Linked DNA regions of Homo sapiens: region 2 is linked to region 1. The links come from fine-mapping of genetic effects on gene expression. A gene starts in region 1. The other region holds a variant in brackets. All regions are shown on one strand. Distances are from middle to middle. Region 1 holds the start of COCH (cochlin). Region 2 has its middle 27 kb from the start of COCH.

Region 1 (2,813 bases):
TAAAACATATATTAATTTTAAAAACCTTTTTTTTCCAAGGCAGAGGAATACTTTCTGGCCATACTGTCCAACTGAGTACCTTGCCTGTGACAAGCACCCTCCTCTGTGCCCTTTGTGGTGACAGGTACCTTACATTCCATGGAAGAGAAGGAAGGATGCAGGCGCAATGCCCATTTCTTAGCTCTGAAGCAGTCTAGAGAGCTGAGAGGTTAAAATCCTTACCCCTAAACAGCCTCATACCTATCATCAAACAGCCTTAATCCTTCCTCCCATTTTCCGCTGAGATGGGGGCGGCATCGGAATCCGGTGCCAAGACCGACCGCCTTTAGTTGCGAACACTGACTTTTGTTAAGTAGAGCGGGAGAAATACAGCCATGAGGGATACTTAACCCTCATTCCTACTTTCAAGGAAAACAAACGGTAGCTCTTAGGAAAGCGTTGCCTTTTACACTGGAAAATACACCAAACCACACACCCATACCCGGACCTCTACACGTGGTACAAACTTTTTAAACTCTCTAGCGTGTAGAGTGAGACCGCGAGTGCTTCTGATTATAGGGGTTACACCTAGAAACATAGCTAGCGAGTCAAACAAGGTGGGACAGCGACGTTCGCCTCCCTCTCTCTCGGCTACGGCAACCTGAAGTCGGGTCTGGGCGGCTTCTCCTCCACCCCCAAACGCAGCAGAGCCCAGGACTGGTGCGCTCCTCGGTGAGGCTCAAGGAGTCCTCCTTCCTCGACCTCCTGCTGCCGGCGCTCAGCGGGCCCGGGGTCTGGGGCTGTGGGTGGGCCTGGAGGAGGCCTTCTTCCTAGTGCTCTTGGAGAACGTCCCCCCACTGGACCCCAGGGGCCCCCTACCATGGGAGAAACAGGTGAGCAGGAGCAGATCGGCTGCAGGGGTTAACGCGGGCGCGCCACGCGGCGGCTCAACCTTCGCGCCTTCCTCCTCAGGCGGTAGGGCTGAAGCCCAAGGGGCTGGATCTGAGTCCCGCTTGTACCCGCTGGTGCTCAGCCCCTGCGACCGCCTGGACGCACCCCAGCTCCCCCACTCACCGGCTCCCTCGCTGCCCGCGGGCCCCGGCAGCAGCAGCAGACACACACCTGCGAAGAGAGAAGCGTGAGGGCTGGCTCCAGCCTCCACCCAGCGGAGCAAGGGGCCGGGGTCGTGAGGGGCGCGCACCCACCGAGGCCGAGAGCCGGGATCCAGGCTGCGGACATGGTGACTGATAGGCTGCTCACACCTGGGAGAGAGGGAGAATGCGGGCAAGGCCAGGGTGCGGGAGGCCCCGCGCGTCACCTCCTCAGAGCCCCGCACCCTTCGGATCCCCGGGCGCGGCGCAGAGGAGAGAGGACACAGACGACCCGCTGCTCCAGGCCAGCGCCCCTCTAGGTCTGGGAGGCGCCTCGGCGGCAAATCGAGCGAAGCCCAGGATCGGTGTGCAACCCCGCACCGCGGGGAGGCGGGGGCGCCAAAACGACGACAGACAGGCTGGGAGCGACAAAGAAACAGGGACAGAGGCGTCAGGGATCCCTCGCACCCGCGCCCGCCGCCCGGGGCTCCGCACCTGCTCGAGATCCACCCGGCTGCGCCCGAGTGCGGAAGGCAAGGCCCCCGCGGCCGCTATAAAGGCTGGGCCGTGCGCATGAGCACTGTGCGGGGGGCGCGGGAGGAAGCGCGGGAGCCGGTCCCCCGGGGCCCGGCGGCGACTTCCAGCTCCGCCTTCGCCCCCTGCCGGCCCCGGGGTGAGGCCGGCGCGGAGGCGCCTCCTCCAGCAGCGCAGGCTCGGCCACCTGGACGCGGCGCCAGTCCCTAGAGGGGCACGAAGGTCCCCGTGCCGGCGTCTCAACGAGTGTGGAGGGCCGGCGGCCCCGACGGCGGCAGCAGCGGCCTCGCCAGCCCTGCTCTGCCGGGACCAGGGCTGCTGAGGCAGCGGCGGCCGCTACCCGCCCCACCCAGCGAGGCCTGGAGCTTCTGAGAGCTGTCAGGTCCACGCGGCCTGAGAACCGAACTTCTCAACTTGGTGCTCTCGTGGAAAGAGTTCCTACTTCTGAAATAAAACCACCCTAGGTTTGGTAAACGCATGCCGCGTTTTTGTTAGAAACCCTGTCAACTGACTGCTAGCTCGTTGGACCTTAGGGATTCGGCCTTGCGCCTTCGTTTCTGCTGGAGTCCTACTTTCCCCAGTGGTTCAATTTGTGCTCCTGCCTAGAGCCACGCGTGTGAGACAGCCCTGACCCCAGCAGCCGGTACCTTTGCTTCTTTCTCACCTCAGGAAGAATTTATGCCTGATTGCCTTTCGAAATTCCCAGACTTGGTGTCTTGTGACTGCACAGAATCTCAGATTTGATAATGTGTTCTCCTTCTCCCCGCACCATCCTGCTAACGTTTTACAAATGGAAATGGAGAAGGAGCAGAATTCTTGAGGAGTGTTAGTGACAGGCGACCTGCATGGCAGCGGAAGAACCAGACCCAGGCCCAGACGCTAACCTTTCTGGTACAATATAAACTTTTTCAAATAGCCTTATTTAGTTACAATTTACATGCCATAAAATCCATCCGTTTTGAGTGTACAGTTCAATGATGTTTAGTAAATTTTCAGAGCTGTACAACCATCACCACAAGCCAATTTCAGAACAGGTTCATCCTCCCCAAAATGATCTCCTCGCCATTGTCAGTCAGTCTCTTCTCCCACTCCTAGTCCTAGGCAATCACTAACCTATTTCCTGTCTCTATAGATTTTTCTTAGTGGTCGTTTCTTATAGATGGGATTATACATTGTGCGGCTTCCTTCACTGCACAGAATGTTTTTGAG
Region 2 (2,813 bases), 27 kb after region 1:
CCAAGGGGCTGATGTCATCCCAGGGTAGTACTGCCTTTTGCTGCTGGTAAAAGAAGAAGCAAAAAACAAATTGTCTCTGGGGGAAATCTTCAACAATTTAGTTTGCAGATTAAGCAATCATTTCACAATCAAAGTTCACCATGCACATTGCAATGCAAGCCAAGCTGAGTGAGATCAATAGAAAAAAAAAAAACAGATTTAGACCCTTCCCCATAGACTTCAGTTATTAGAGTTGTCAGTTGCACAATATAGGGAAGCTATGTTAAAAATATTTAAAGGGGAGGGTGTGGTGGATCATGCCTGTAATCTCTTTTGGAGATGGAGGCAAGAGGATCGCTGGAGGCTGGGAATTTGAGACCACACTAGATAACATATTGAGAGCCCCATCTCTACAAAAAATAAGAAAAAAGTAGCCAGGTATGGTGGGGCACGCCTGTTGCCCTACCTACCTGGGAGGCTGAAGCAAGAGGCTCTCTTGAGCCCAGGAGTTGGAGATTGCAGCGAGCTATGATCTCACCACTGCACTCTAGTCTGGGCAACAGAGTGAGACTCTGTCTCTAAGAAAAAAAAAAACTTAAAGAAATAATGGACACAATCAAAAAGATAAGTAAGTAACAAAAAAACCAGCAGGAATAAATAGGTAGACTTGGAAATAAAAGGGAATTTCTGAAAATGTAAAATACAATTGTTAAAAATTTAAGGACTCAATGAATGGGTTTGACAGCAGATTTAATACAGCCATAATCACTCCAGGAAAGGCAGAAAAGGAATTGGAAAACATAAAAAAGTAGATATGTGAGGAAATCTAATATATATTTAACCGAGTCCCAAAAAGTGAGACTAGAGAGAAAATTGTAGGCAATATTTAAAGAGATATGGGCTTTAAATTTTCCAGAACTAATCTATTCCATAGATCCTAGGAAAAACCTGTTTTGAAAAAAAAGGAGAGCTGTTGTAAAATATGCAGACTATAGTTAATAACAATGCATTATATTCTTGAAAATTGCTAAGTATAGATTTGAAGTGTTCTCATCACAAAGCAATGATATGTATGTGAGGTAATATATATATTAATTAGCTCGATTTAGCTATTCCACAATGTGTACCTATTTCAAAGCATGCTGTACATGATAAATATATACAATTTTTATTTCTCAATTAAAACAAATAAATAAAAATTTAGAAAAAATAAATAGAAAGCCTGAATTGTCCTAAGACTATTTAAAAAAAATCAAACTATCAGTGATGTTTTCCCACTAAGAAAACTCTATGTCTTGGATGTTTTACAGGTAGTTCTACCAAATTTCTAAGGAGCATATTATTCCAAATGTAATAATTCTTTGAGAGGATAGAAAACTCATTCTATGAGGTCACTGCTACCTTGATACCAAATCCAGGCAACGTCAGTATGAAAATGGGTTATTACAGTCACTCTTTCTCATTAACACATACACAGACTGAATCTATCAGTTGATAATGAACACCCAAAGGTCTCTAATACAAAATTTCAATGAAATGGCTAAAGATAAGTAAAAAAAAAA[G/AG]GGAATAAAATTTACTAGCATTAAAATCAGGAAACACTGCCAGGTATATTCTGTGTACTTCTCCCTATATGAAGAGGGCACCTTCCACCATAAGGGGAGGGCAAGTATATAGTTACAATTTTTTGCAGTGTTCTGTTTCTTATATTGTCAAGGATACAGAGTGTTGTTCTTTGTCTTATTTTACTTAAAACTTACATATACATTACATATATTCTTTTGATTATATCAAGAATTATATATACATGTGTATACATGTGTGTACATATTTGGGTATGTGATATATATTTTTCTTCAATGGAAAGGGGATGGCATAAAAACAAGCTTGTAATGGAACAAAATGGCCAAAGAGAAGTAATTAGGACAAAACTGCATTGACACTGAAACTAGGAAATCATGCTAAGCATAAGCCATGCATTTTTGGAAATATCAGCCAGATAAAATGCAATTTGAAAAAGATTAATGAAACCAAAAGTTGGTTTTTTGAAAAGATAAAAGTGACAAACCTTTAGCCAGACTAATTAAGCAAAGAAGAGAGAAGACCCAAATAAATAAACAGATGAAAAAGGAGACATTACAACTGATACCACAGCAATTCGAAAGATCATTACAGGTTATTTTGAGCAACTATGTGCCAAAAATTGAAAAACCTAGAAGAAATTGATAAACTCCTAGGCACATACAGCCTACTAAGATTCAACTATAGAGAAATTCAAAACCTGAGCAGACCAATAACAAGCGATGAGATTAAAGCCGCAATAAAAAATCTCGCCGTAAAGAAAAGTCCAGGACCTGATGAATTCACTGCTGAATTCTACCAAACATGTAAAGAAAAACTAATACCAGTCCTACTCAAACTATTCCAAAAAACAAAGAAGGAGGGAATACTTTCAAACTCATTCTTCAAGGTCAGTGTTACCCAGTACCGAAACCAGACAAAGACACAACAAAAAAAGAAAACTGCAGACCAGTATCTCTTATGAACATTGATGCAAAAATCCTCAACAAAATGCTAGCAAACAGAATTTGACAACACATTAAAAAGATCATTTATCATCAACAAGTGTGATGCATCCCAGGGTGTAAGGATGGTTCGATATAGTCAAATCAATGTGATCCATCATATCAACAAAATGAAGGACAAAAACCACATGATCATTTCAACTGATGCTGAAAAAGCATTTGATAAAATTCAACATCCATTCATGATAAAACCCTTAAAAAAATACTGGGGCTAGAAATATACCTCAATGTAATAAACATCATATATGACAG

The links. PIP is the estimated chance that this variant, and not a neighbour inherited with it, causes the effect. A credible set is the group of variants that fine-mapping cannot tell apart.
Region 2: its variant is the best candidate, but not a certain one, in a credible set for the expression of COCH in whole blood (INTERVAL, PIP 0.63).

Annotation. Positions count from the first base shown.
Region 1 is chr14:30,873,344-30,876,156 of GRCh38, reverse strand. It overlaps COCH (cochlin), which reads right to left and starts at 1,598. Exons shown (of 12, transcript NM_004086.3): 1 at 1,566-1,598; 2 at 1,185-1,241; 3 at 1,054-1,101. The coding sequence starts at 1,218. RefSeq lists a silencer at 1,517-2,036.
Region 2 is chr14:30,846,323-30,849,135 of GRCh38, reverse strand. No RefSeq gene overlaps it. Among named protein-coding and RNA genes, the nearest start is that of COCH, 27 kb to the left of the region's middle. The variant G/AG (reference allele first, on the strand shown) is at 1,542.